Homo sapiens: one gene and its partners. The protein of the gene in region 1 interacts with the protein of each later gene in a biochemical or structural test. Each region holds a gene or a part of one and is shown in the gene's direction. Other genes may lie near its edges.

The links.
Region 2: the proteins of LIN7A (region 1) and HCN2 interact in a test that uses a peptide from one of them, tested with the Homo sapiens proteins (one large-scale study listed by IntAct).
Region 3: the proteins of LIN7A (region 1) and KCNT2 interact in a test that uses a peptide from one of them, tested with the Homo sapiens proteins (one large-scale study listed by IntAct).
Region 4: the proteins of LIN7A (region 1) and TMEM225B interact in a test that uses a peptide from one of them, tested with the Homo sapiens proteins (one large-scale study listed by IntAct).

The regions. Positions count from the first base shown.
Region 1 is NC_000012.12:80,843,935-80,847,434, reverse strand, and holds part of LIN7A (protein lin-7 homolog A), read left to right. Parts: intron 1-1,495; coding exon 1,496-1,705; intron 1,706-3,500. UniProt on the Homo sapiens protein: Plays a role in establishing and maintaining the asymmetric distribution of channels and receptors at the plasma membrane of polarized cells.
Region 2 is NC_000019.10:610,381-613,880, forward strand, and holds part of HCN2 (potassium/sodium hyperpolarization-activated cyclic nucleotide-gated channel 2), read left to right. Parts: coding exon 1-25; exon of another isoform or gene 26-774; intron 775-2,498; exon of another isoform or gene 2,499-2,867; coding exon 2,868-3,108; intron 3,109-3,471; coding exon 3,472-3,500. UniProt on the Homo sapiens protein: Hyperpolarization-activated ion channel that is permeable to sodium and potassium ions. Displays lower selectivity for K(+) over Na(+) ions. Contributes to the native pacemaker currents in heart (If) and in neurons (Ih).
Region 3 is NC_000001.11:196,339,441-196,342,940, reverse strand, and holds part of KCNT2 (potassium channel subfamily T member 2), read left to right. Parts: intron 1-712; coding exon 713-862; intron 863-2,370; coding exon 2,371-2,600; intron 2,601-3,500. UniProt on the Homo sapiens protein: Sodium-activated and chloride-activated potassium channel. Produces rapidly activating outward rectifier K(+) currents. Contributes to regulate neuronal excitability.
Region 4 is NC_000007.14:99,608,267-99,611,545, forward strand, and holds the end of TMEM225B (transmembrane protein 225B), read left to right. Parts: intron 1-2,126; coding exon 2,127-2,299; 3' UTR 2,300-2,779; downstream 2,780-3,279.

The DNA.
Region 1 (3,500 bases):
TTTTAGTTTTTACTCTGTAACTGAACACTGTAGATTTGTAAGGTTTTTTTGTTTTGTTTTGTTTTGTTTAAACTCAGGGAAAAAAAGAGGGTGTTATTATCATCATGTCATGCTTTGCTTGTACTGAAGTGGAACACACACAGAAAAATGATCCCTACGTGGTTTAATTAAGGGGAAAGTGAATTGTGTAGTGTTTTACCATTCTCATTTCTTATTCATGTAGAACAGCAGGATAGCAGCATAATGTTGCAATAGCACAGTATTTTCTGGTTGTTTCTGGGCTGTCTGCATTGCATCCATGTCAGCCATTAAAATCTATGCATGACAATGAGGTTTGCATGAGCAAATGCATGTAGCTAAAAACAAGCCATTGTTTTCATGTCATTCACTATCTTTCACTAAATGCAGACAGTAGCATAATGCTAAATTGATGTGATAATGCTGTGTGTGGAAAAGAAGGTACAGTCGTTGGGAATAAATATTTTCACAGTGTTGAGTAAGTCACTTTATAGCAGGCATCTAATCAACTGTGATCAAGGTGAATTAATAAAAGTGAAAAATAAGCAGGCACAGAATCATTTCTTGATAGAAACTACCTAAGTGCTGTTATTTTATTTCTATGGGGTTAGTGGGAACTAATGGTAAGTTGTTTTCTTGAACTCATTTAATGAAATCAGTACATGAATTTTAAAACAAATTATGTCCATATTAAATGATGTTTTGTATATCTAGGTATAAAATCATTGACTTCATATTGCCTATTTTGTTATAATAATTGAAATATTAATGTATAATATAGGAAGAAAAATCCTGTTCCAGATAAGATTTCTCAGTATGGAATAATAATATGGTATATTGGTATAAGCTAACAATAATCTGTTTGAATCTATTATTTTATTTTAGTTTTCATTCTCTTTAAGGCATCCTTAATTTTTTAAAAAAGTTAAATTTGCTAAGCTTTTGGGTTGGCAATAGCAAGATTACATATGTATTCAAAAGTATGTATACATACAAGTGCTCTTCAATTTATTAAAAAAATACTTATGAACTTTTATGTGCAAGCACCAGATTAGACTCTGTGTCATACAAAAGAGTGCAAGACGCCATCTCTGCTCTTAAGGTGCTCATAGTCAACACATGTATAAAATAATTATAATAGTAGATAGTACATATAACAAAGTTATTTGGACTCCAGGAATAGGAAGAATTGCAGCTAACCAAGGTAACTGGAAAGGATTTTTATGAAGACAGGAAAATTCTGTCATAACAGATAAGCCCTAGGAAGCTGGAAATAGATGAGTGGGACTTTACCAAAGAAAGAAATCCTAGATGGCATCTAAATGAAGAAAGTCCTCTGCTTTTTGTGTTCTTTCTTTCACAGGAGAATACTATAAAAATATGAGAAGTTGCCTGAGCTACCCACTGCAAAGCATATGATTAGCCTTTATTTCCCTCATTTTATTACCAAAAGACCATCTTTTTTTTTTTTTTTCAGGCAACAGTTGCAGCTTTTGCAGCTAGTGAAGGCCACTCCCACCCTCGAGTAGTTGAACTGCCAAAGACTGATGAAGGCCTTGGTTTTAATGTGATGGGAGGAAAGGAGCAAAATTCCCCCATTTATATCTCTCGCATAATTCCTGGAGGGGTGGCTGAAAGACACGGAGGCCTCAAAAGAGGAGACCAGCTGCTATCAGTGAACGGAGTGGTATGTTTATAAAATAACCAGAGATTTTCTCCTTAAGCACATTCTTTTTTTTTGCCCCCTGCTATTACTGAAGTCAACGTTGAAAACCTAGAATAAATATTCATTTTATGTCTAACCAGCTTTCTAAGCATTGATGGATATTAAACCTATAAAAGCTGCAATCTAATTTTTATGTCTCATTTCATTATGTTCAGTTATGATAAATATCAGTGAGTTGAAAAAACATCCCAGGAAATTAATCCAACTAGCTGACTTTCTTCCCATAATACTCCAAGTAACATTTACAAGAATACAGTAATTTCAAGATACTTTTTATCCTAAGTTACTATAAGCAAATACATACATTTTAAGAATAAAGATATAGCTCCTTACTTTGTAATGTGTGTGGGTTTTTCATTTTAATTACAGAGGAAGGGTAATTTTAATGTTTATGTAATAATAACACATATGAAAAAGGCTAATGCACTCAAAATTTTTTTTTTTTTTTTTTTTTGAGATGGAATCTCACACTGTCCCCCAGGCTGGAGTGCAGTGGTGCCATCTCAGCTCACTGCAAGCTCCGCCTCCCGGGTTCACACCATTCTGCTGCCTCAGCCTCCCAAGTAGCTGGGACTACAGGCGCCCGCCACCAAGCCCGGTTAATTTTTGTATTTTTAGTAGAGATGAGGTTTCACCATGTTAGCCAGGATTGTCTCAATCTCCTGATCTCGTGATCCGCCTGCCTCGGCCTCCCAAAGTGCTGGGATTACAGGCGTGAACCATCGCGCCCGGCCTCAAAATTCTTGAAGCCAGATCTACAGCTATAGTATAATAAAAACATATTAGCCTTCCTCCAAAAAAGAGTTTGATTAAATTACCTATTCATAATATATGCTTTCGTTTTTAAATGAAATTAGAGTAAATTAAAATATGTAACATTTTAAAGTAAAAGTATGAATATACATTTTCTCATAACATATTCTCTGGATGCCACCACTTCCACTTGTAATAAGGAGTTGCTAAAGAAATTGTTTCCTATGAAACAAACATTTTCTCCCTATAACATCCACTTATATTAAACATAAATTACCTAAAAGCATACATTTCAGAAATATAAACAGAAACTTATCAATGTTACCTTTCGATTAACCTAAGATCTTTTTTCTAAGAACTTAAGGATTTTAATATATAAACTCGATTTCAGTTATTTGTGGCCAGATTGATTTATGCTTGGGACACAATATCCAAAATCAAATGTAATTGGAACATGATATTTTATTGGTAACTGTAGAATGAAATTCTTCTGTATTCATATCTTGAATTTTATTCATTTGTTTCTTATTTTTAGACTGACTAGTAGTTTCATAGAACCCAAAACTATTCCTTCAACTCTGCTGTCCTCTAATGTATATCAAAATTCTCAACCCATGAATATTTTCTATCACTTCAGCATTCCAATTACTACTTACTTTTTTCTATGTAATAATGTTTTGAGATAAGCTTTTTATTGACCTTTAGATAACTGTGACTTTTTCAAAGCATGTTTCAAGTGATAATTTCAGAGTCTAACTTTCTGGTAGAGGACTCTAGAGCTAGGTCACACAATTGCGTCACATAGAGGCTTATGCCCCAGAGTATGAACTTGCAATTTCTCTGAATATATTATATAAATCAAATAAGGTATAGATTTAAAAACAGTATGAAAAGTTTAAAAAATTTCAAAGTATATTAACAGTAATTATAATTGTGTAAAGTAAGAATATATATATATATAATAAATTTAATACGTGGTTGACTTTGAGCTTTCTTATAAGGG
Region 2 (3,500 bases), on another chromosome or scaffold:
CGAGCTCAACGGGCCCCTGCGGGAGGTGAGGCGGGCGCCGGGCGGGCGGGAGGCAGCCTCCGGTACAGGGCCGGCCTCCCTCTCCTGGAGCCCAGGAGCCGGTCCCTGAGGGAGGCGAGGTGCCTAGGCTGCAGCAGGAGGGACTCGAGCTAGACCTGCGTACACACCCTCCCCTCCCCGCCCCGTGAGCCTCTGCACCCCCAGGACCCCCGCCACCCCCGCCTTGCTTCCCGCTGCCCCCTTAGCAGAACTGCCTGGGTCTGTGCCTGACAGGGCGGGGCAGAAGCAGGGCAGGGGGTGGGGAGGGAGGAGCCGCAGAGGCCCCGCTGAGCACCAGGTCCTGGGGGCACTGAGGCTGATTGGAGCGGGTTTAACTCCCAGCTCTGTTCCGGTAGCCTGAGTGACCCTGGGCAAGTTTCCCAGGGTTGCGGGAACAAATACCCACAGGCTGAGTGGCTTGAACAGCGGAGATTCGGCCTCCCACCGTCCTGGAGGCCGGAAGCCCAACATCAAGGCGTGGGCCGGGCCGTGCTACCCCCCCGGAGCCCCTGGGGAGGATCCTTCCTGCCTCTTCCGGCGTCTGGGGCTCCAGGCGCCCTTGGCTTGCAGATTGATCTCCCTGATCTCTGCCTCCATCTGCTCACAGCCTTCTCCCCTGTGTGTCTCTGTCTCTTCTTGTAAATTCATCCGTCGTTGGATCAGGGCCCACCCGGTTCCTCGTGGCCTCGCCTTAACTGGGCCATGTCTGCAGAGACCCTATTTCCACATAAGGTCCTATTCACAGGAACCGGGGGTCAGGATGTCAGCCTGTCTTTCTGGGAGATGTAGTTCAACCCACAACACACATCAAACAGTTATTGAGCGCCGACTGCGTGCCCTGCCGTGTGCTTGAAGGTCCCACCCTCAGGAAGCGGGGCCTAGGGATGGCGGCCGTGATCACGCAGGCAGCAGAGAGCAGCTCTGGGAAGCGGGGAGGGACGAGGACGGGGAGGCGACATCAGCAAGGCCGTGTGTGAGCCAGGCAGGGTGTCCCCGGTGTAGCACCTGGCTCGGGCAGAGGCCCCGAGGAGGGGCTGGAGGAGCTGGGCGAGGAGGCGGGCAGGACGGGCCTGACACTAGGGACCTCGGGCCCCGGGAATGCCTCTGGGGGGGCGTGTACACCCGTTGCTCCCAGGAGGCACACACTGCGGTTCGCTTCGCCAAGAATGTTTAATTGCATTTGATGACTACGGTTTCCATTCATTCATTTGTAGAGATATAACACTCAGACCACAAAATGCATAAAATGCGGTGGCTTTTAGTATTAACAGAGTGCTGCACCCGATACCACAGCCTCACTCCAGAACATTCTCATGGGCCCAAAAGGAGACCTGGGGTGTTAGTCACCAGCTCACTCCCCGTCCCCAGCCCCTGGCAACCCACGCTACTTAGTCATTATTTAGGTGTTTAGGAGTTGCAAAGTCAAATCTTTAAACCCACATATGGCCAGGCGTGGTGGCTCACGCCTGTAATCCCAGCACTTTCAGAGGCCGAGACGGGCAGATCACCTGAGGTCAGGAGTTCGAGACCAGCCTGGCCAACATGGTGAAGCCCCGTCTCCACTAAAAATACAAAATTAGCCGGGCGTGGTGGTGGGCGCCTGTAATCCCAGCTACTCTGGAGGCTGAGACAGGAGAATCGCTTGAACCCAGGAGGCGGCGGTTGCAGTGAGCCGAGATTGTGCCACTGCACTCCAGCCTGGACAACAGAGCGAGACTCCGTCTCAAAAAAAAAAAAAGTACCAAAAAGTGCCCCAGGTCATAAGGGCACAGCTCGATAGCTGGTCCCTAAAGGGAACGTGGTGTAACCACCACACAGAACGAAGCTGGAACGTTCCTGCCGTCCTTAGAAGCTGCCTTTGCTAAGGGGAATTGCCCTGACTTCCCACACCATTGATTCATCTCCAGACCCTTGGTTTTCATGTTGATTTTTCAAAAATCACCTGATAGTCTGACCGAATGTAGCTTTCCACTGGTGTGTGTGTGTGTGTGTGTGTGTGTGTGTGTGTGAGAGAGAGATGGAGTCTCGCTCTGTCACCCGGGCTCCAGTGCAGTTGTGTGATCTTGGTTCACTGTAACCTCCTCCTCCCGGGTTCAAGAGACTCGTGCCTCAGCCTCCCGAGTAGCTGGGATTACAGGCACCCGCCACCACACCCAGCTAATTTTTTGTATTTTTAGTAGAGATGGGGTTTCACCATGTTGGCCAGGCTGGTCTCGAACTCCTGACATCAGGCGATCCACCCACCTTGGCCTCCCAGAGTGCTGGGATTACAGGTGTGAGCCACCACGCCCGGCCTTATTTTTCCCCCATTTTCTTTTTTTTTTTTTTTGAGTCAGGGTCTTGTTCTGCGCTCAGGCTGGAGGGCAGTGGTGTGGGGATCACGGCTCACTGCAGCCTCGACTTCCTGCACCACCACGCCTGGCTGTTTTTTTTTTTTCCGGTAGAGACGGGGGTCTTACCGTGTTGCCCAGGCTGGTCTAGAACTCCTGGGCTCAAGCGATCCTCCCGCCTCGGCCTCCGCAAATGCTGAGATCACACGCGTGAGCCCCCGCACCCGGCCTCCTTTCCACCGCTCTTGTCTACAGCCGCCCCTCCTGGTCCGATTGTATTGGCAGATGTCGCCAATACGGTGTCAAACGGCGAAGGGGCACTGAGCGTTTTTTCTTTCTCCCGTCCTTGGCGGCAGCAGCTCGGTTCCGGCTACGGGGCTGAGCCCGTCTCTCAGACGAGGAAACTGGGGTCCGAGAGGTGAGCCGGTCCCAGAGGCAGGGCGAGGGGGAAGCGGGAGTGGGGTCCGCAGCGGACCCAGCCCTGCCTCCCCCCTGCAGGAGATCGTCAACTTCAACTGCCGGAAGCTGGTGGCCTCCATGCCGCTGTTCGCCAACGCCGACCCCAACTTCGTCACGGCCATGCTGACCAAGCTCAAGTTCGAGGTCTTCCAGCCGGGTGACTACATCATCCGCGAAGGCACCATCGGGAAGAAGATGTACTTCATCCAGCACGGCGTGGTCAGCGTGCTCACTAAGGGCAACAAGGAGATGAAGCTGTCCGATGGCTCCTACTTCGGGGGTGAGCTTGAGGGGGGCGCGCCTGGAGGGGGAGGGGGCACGCGACCCCCGCGGTGTGCAGAGCCAGGGGGCCGGGGCCGGGGCCGGGGCCGGGGATGGGGATGGGGATGGGGATGGGGCCGGGGATGGGGATGGGGATGGGGATGGGGCCGGGGATGGGGATGGGGATGGGGCCGGGGATGGGGATGGGGCCGGGGATGGGGCCGGGGATGGGGCCGGGGATGGGGCCGGGGCCGGCACCAGGGAGAGCCTGGGTGGGAAGCGCCCACGCTGGCCAAGGTGCAGAGGCCGGGCCGTGTGCCTGGGCGGGGAGGGCCGCGGCGCCCGCCTCGTCCAGCAACCCCCCCCTGCGCGCCACGTGCAGAGATCTGCCTGCTCACCCGGGGCCGCCGC
Region 3 (3,500 bases), on another chromosome or scaffold:
ATAACCTAATTGCCTCTCAAAGGCCACACTCCCAAATACCATCATAATGGGATTAGGATTCCAACATGAATTTTGTGGTTACAAGAATATTCAGTTAGTTGGAGAGATCCTTACATTTAAAATAAGAAAAGTGTCTTTTCGTGACTGCTATACAATTGGAAGAAAGTTATTGCTACGATATGAACAAAAACTAAAGGTATATTTTCTATAAAATCAAAGATAAATTGAGATAAATTTGTAATTTTAAGTATAAAGCAAAATAAAATACCTACAGCAGCCACGCAGGTATCATAGGTAAGATAACGTTGGCCATATTATGGAGACTGTACAACAAATTTTAGAAGATATACATGATAGGATATGTATATAAAGAGAGACTAAAATCCTGTATCTCATTGATTCATTGTGAGAGTAAAGCTTTTCATTAGCTGGATCTTGGAAAACTCCCACTTTCTACAAAACTGTCATTTCTCAAGCATATATATATATATACATATATATATATATATATATATATATAGTATTCAAAATTTTTTAGAAACTCTTGCATATAATGTCATCTTCAGACTTCAAAGCATTACTCAGATGCTCCTTTGGATTGTGCTTGCCAGTTCTTACACAGTTGAGAAACAGTTCTATAACAACTGTTTTTTAACCACATTCACTGTGTTTTCTTTTTGTGTGTGTGTATGTGTGTGTGCCTGTGTTGCAGAGAAGGCCAGCAATCGCCAGAACAATGGCAGAAGATGTACGGTAGATGCTCCGGGAATGAAGTCTACCACATTGTTTTGGAAGAAAGTACATTTTTTGCTGAATATGAAGGAAAGAGTTTTACATATGCCTCTTTCCATGCACACAAAAAGTATGTTTCTGCCTCAGAGAAAAATTAAAATATCAATCAGTCAAGCATATCATGTGAAAATAGTTTTCAAAAATAGAATGCATATTGTGTTCATGTGTTTAGGCATTCCGGAATTTTTGTCACAATATTCCCCAATGTTGAAACATTTGAACCCTGGTGTCTGTATGGTCTCTATAAGACAGTCAGGAGTAAATTATAATTTAGTAGGAATATTTCATTTAGCCACTTTTAAAGTCTTTTTAAAATATTTTAATCCATTAAGAATTTACATACATATGAAAATCTTCTTCACAGATCTGAATTTTAAGATGTTGATTAGGAACTAAAACAAAGTAACACTAATATTTCTAAAAACTGTACATTTGAAAAAAAAATCTCTGATGGTGGCCCTTGTTTTGGCCTGAGAAATAAGTTAAAAAATAAATAAAACTACCTTCCAATTCAAACATAGAACTTTTTTTTTCTTTTCCTTTTTGGAAAAAAAAAGGATTTACTTAAGAAGTAAAAATGTATGTATATAATGAAAATAACATATTATCTGTATTAAATGTTTTAATGTGACACATTTTGGAGGATTTACAATATACGTATATAGTCTACTAACTAATCTATTATGTAATGTACAGGAACCCCCAACTTATGATGCTTTGACTTACTATTTTTTTACCATGATGGTACAAAACAATAGCCATTCAGTAGAAACCATACTTCCAGTATCCATACAATCATTTTATTTTTCACTTTCAGTAGAATATTCAATAAATTACATAAGATATTTAACACTTTATTATAAAACAGGCTTGGTATTAGATGATTTTGCCCAACTGTAGGCAATGTAAGTGTTATGAGTATGTTTAAGGTTGGCTAGGTTAAAACTATGATATTTGTTAGGCTAGCTGTATTAAAAGCATTTTTTATTTAACAATATTTTCAACTTATGCTGGGTTTATCAGGACATAACTCTATTATAAGTCAAGGAGCTTCTGTATTCTACTTTACTTTTTTTTTCTGACTAAGTACATACCTATTTAAGACTATTTAAATATATATATTTTTTCTAAAATTTAAAGTAAACCAACTGTGATAAATTCAGGGACCCTGGTTCTCTTTCAGGTGACCATGGGTAAGTTTCTTTCCTTTGGCCAATAGTTTTAAGCTTTTTATTTATTTTTTTTAACCAAAGTAAGATATGCTGTTTATGTTTTTTGACCAAAGTAAAATTGTTGTAAAAATTCGCAAAATAATGTTACCCTTAGTGTATACATGCACTCATGTTTCTTATGTTCTTCCATTCATTTTCATTAAAATGTAAATTTATAGTGGTCATAATCAGCTAAATTGGTTTTACAACACACTAAGCACATAGTTTATTTTCCTGTAAAAATGAGGATCTTGAACTTCTAGGATCATTTCAAGCTTTAAAATGCTATTATTTAAAGCTTTTATTTTCCTCAGCCTTACAATAATTTACTAATTTTCTTACAAACTCTCTTTTTTTTTAAATTAAGGTTTGGCGTCTGCTTGATTGGTGTTAGGAGGGAGGATAATAAAAACATTTTGCTGAATCCAGGTCCTCGATACATTATGAATTCTACAGACATATGCTTTTATATTAATATTACCAAAGAAGAGAATTCAGCATTTAAAAACCAAGACCAGCAGAGAAAAAGCAATGTGTCCAGGTCGTTTTATCATGGACCTTCCAGATTACCTGTACATAGCATAATTGCCAGCATGGGTAAGTATAAACAAATTTGAAATATCATTAATTTATTTCTAAAATAAAAAATAATGATAAATACCAATGCATTTAAATTTTTATTAAAAGTTTAAAGAAAATTTCAAACATGCTGCATTTTACAAACTAGGTATGACTAGGTATACAGGACAACAGTTCTAAGTTGTGAATTTTTTAAAAAGTAAGATATTAGCCTACTGTGGTGGCATATGTCTATAATACTACCTATTCCAGAGGCTGAGGTGGAAGAATTGCTTGAGCCAGGAGTTTGAGAACAGCCTGGGCAACAGAAAAAGACTCTGTGTCCAAAAAAACCTCAATCTAAGATATTACAAAAACACAATCAACAATCATTTTATATTTCTCATTATATATAAAGCACCACACACTTTTATATTTCTTTTGTAAGTTCTCTTTGTAATTATCATCAAGAGAGGCTATTTCAAATATTCTTCATTTTCTCAAAATTCTCTTTCCATCTCTTACCTCACTCTCACCACTGAACTTGGCTTCTATGACACAGAAGAAGAAAGGTAAAAGAAAAAATACCTCCATGCAAATAAGAATTTCTTTACGGTTTGGCCTCCAAACCATCTACAAACCTACAAACATTTAGTATCTGTCACAAGGAAAATGTGTCATTTTTAACTAATACTGATACATTCATTTATTCCAGGAACCATGCCCTTGTTCCTCCTCAGAGACTTTACTCTTTAATCCCTCCTCATTACCTAACTTCATTTTCTATTCAGAATCACTGGCTGATCTCTCTCTCTCTGTGTCTCTGTCTCTCTCTCTCTCTCTCTCTCTCTCTCTCTCTGTGTGTGTGTGTGTCTCTTCATATCTCTGTGTGCACCATACACTTGTAATTTTGAACCTTCCATGATAACAACTTCAGAG
Region 4 (3,279 bases), on another chromosome or scaffold:
AAAAGTTATGAATTCAGTTCCTCAGCCATACTAGCCACATCACCGATGTTCAATAACCACATATGTCCAGTGGCTATTGGACACTGTCATATTGGACAGTGCAGACAGAGAAATTTCCTTCTCTGCAGAACGTTCTACCTGACAGCACTGCTCTGGAGCTTCAACCCCATCCTTGGCCTTCCTGTTCTTATCCTTCTTGACTTAGAACTAAACTCTTTCAAATTTTTATAGTCTCCCTTCCACCATCCTGGTTCCTTAGGCTATCTATTTCTGTCTCTACCTTTTTTTTTTTTTTTTTTAAGAGATAGGGTCTTGCTTTGTTGCCCAGGTTGGAGTGCAGTGGTACAACTGCAGCCTCCAACTCTGGGGCTCAAGCGATCCTCCTGCCTCAGCCTCTTGAATCACTGGAACTACAGGCATGTGCCACCATGGCCAGCTAGTTAAAAAAAAATATATATATATATATATACACACACACACACACACACACACACACACATATTTATATATGCACATATATATGTATGTGTGTATATATGTATATAGACATACATATATGTGTGTGTGTGCACGTATATATATATATATATATACACACACACATATATGTGTATATATGGCCAGGTGCACTGGCTCACACCTGTCATCTCAGCACTTCGGGAGGCCAAGGCAGGTGGACCACCTGAGGTTAGGAGTTCAAGACCAGCCTGGCCAACATGGCGAAAACCCATCTCTACTAAAAATACAAAAATTAGCTGGGTATGGTGGTGCGTGCCTGTAATCCCAGCTACTCAGTAGGCTGAAGCAGGATAATCACTTGAACCCAGGAGGTGGAGGTTGCGGTGAGCTGAGATCTCACCACTGCACTCCAGCCTGGGCAACAGCGGGACTCCATCTCAAAAAAACAAACAAACAAAAAACCACATATTTAAGCTTTTATTTCTTAATTTCCCCTTCACCAAATAGAGTTACAATATTTTATATTTTAACCTTTTAATTCCATTTTTCCATGATTTCCATGAATTCTTTGAAGTTCTCTCACATTTTATTTAAAATTTTTGTGGCTTTTAGTGGTAGAGTAGTCTGCTATAATGCTGAAAATAGAAGATGTCTTTTATCTTAGTCTTCATCTTAACACAGCATTGATCATTTACTCAAGATATCTCCATTTGTTGTCTCTTTTTGTTCCCGAGATGGAGTCTTGCTCTGTCACCCAGGCTGGAGTGCAGTGGCATGATCTCGGCTCACTGCAACCTCCGTCTCCTGGGTTCAAGCAATTCTGCCTCAGCCTCCCAAGTAGCTGGGACTACAGGCATGCACCACCATGCCTGGCTAATTTTTATATTTTTAGTAGAGATGGGGTTTCACCATGTTGGCCAGGCTGGTCTCGAACTCCTGACCTTGTGATCCACCCACCTCGGCCTCCCAAAGTGCTGGGATTACAGGTGTGAGCCACCGCGCCCGGCCACTTGTTCTTTTTTTTAAAGGGACAAGGTCTTGCTCTGTCGCCCAGGCTGGAGGGCAGTGGTGTGATCATAGCTCACTGCACCCTTGACCTCCTGGGCTCAAGTGATCTTCCTGCCTCACCCTCCCAAGTCAGTGGGGCTTCAGGCTCATGCCATCATGCCTGGCTAATTTTAATTTTTTTTTGGTAAACACGAGGTCTTGCTATGTCGCCCATGATGAGTCTCGAACTCCTGGGCTCAAAAGACCCTCCTGTCTCGGCTTCCCAAAGCACTGGAATTACAGGCGTGAACTACCACGTCCATCCCTCGTTTGTTCTTATTCGTGTCAGTTGTCTATCTTTTACTTCACTGAAGGTCTTGGGTTGGGCCTGGGTTTTGTGTTGGAACTTCCTTTCTCTAAACCTTAGTTTTTTTTTTCACCCATTAATGGGCTACATGATTGCTGAGATGTCTTCTAGGTGCTGACCATGGGTCTGTGATTTTATACATGTATTTGTACTTCTTGTCCTTTGACGCATCCTGTCTGTAATCTCTCTCTGTAATACTCTAGATTGGGGGGCAGAATGAGGGAGGGCAGCTCTGGAGCTAGAGGGACCTGACCTCTAGGGCGTGGAGCTCTGGACTTTCTCTGACCTGACCCAAACGTTGGCTGTTCCCTAGGTACCATCTGCCTCATTCAAGAAATGGTTTGCCCTTGCTGGCACTTGTTGTCCACTTCCCAGAGTATGGAGGAGGACCACGGGAGCCTGTACCTGGACAATCTGGAGAGTTTGGGAGGAGAACCGAGCTCAGTACAAAAGGAGACACAGGTGACAGCAGAAACAGTCATCTAGCCCAGGACATGGCTTCTTTACCCTTCTTCAAGCCATGTGAGTGTACACATGTAGCTGTTTGTAGTCCTCCCCACCCTCTCTGCCAGTATCTGTGCCTTTGAGGAGCTTCTTGCGTGTCAGATCAACTCTCCACCTCCCCATACTCACAGTGATTCTATCTTGCTTGTATGTGAAATTTGCTAAAAGTCCTTTCAACTCTTCTGAGCTTCCTAAGTGACGTTTTTGCAGGTATTTTCAATAAAAAGAAGGGCTACTTTGTTCATCCATATCTCAAAAACCAAGTCCGCAGGGCAGGAGGGGAGGGAGGAATATTACAAGATAACCAAGTGAAATGGGATTTTGTGAAACAGAAACCGTACAGAATACAGAATATACTCGGGGGAATGACAACTATTTGGGCTGGTGGCACAGGGGTAAAAGAATTTACCAAGACGGTTGTAGATAAAGAAAGGCAGATTTATTAAAGGAAGTATAAAAGTACATTGCCGGGCTGGGCGTGGTGGCTCGTGCCTATAATCCCAGCACTTTGGGAGGCCGAGGCGGGTGGATCACCTGAGGTCAGGAGTTCAAGACCAGCTTTATCAACATGGAGAAACCCCGTCTCTACTAAAAATACAAAATTAGCCGGGTGTAGTGGTGCATGCCTGCAATCCCAGCTACTCGGGAGGCTGAGGCAGGAGAACTGCTTGAACCCAGGAGGTGGAGGTTGCAGTGAGCCGAGATCACGCCATTGCACTCCAGCCTGGGAAACAAGAGCAAAACTCCGTCTCAAAAAAAAAAAAAGTACATTGCCAGGGAGCAACAGGCAGGACCAGCAGAAGAGGAGCTGACTGAAAGGAAACAAAGACTTGTTGGAGATTTGATGGCATAGTGTTTATGCTGTATGCTGAAGAGGGCTTTGTGCAGTACTGATAATGCCAGTGTTGCAGTGAGCTAACTTGCAGGTGTCTGGTGATAGCTTGGGCGCAGGAAGATTGTGA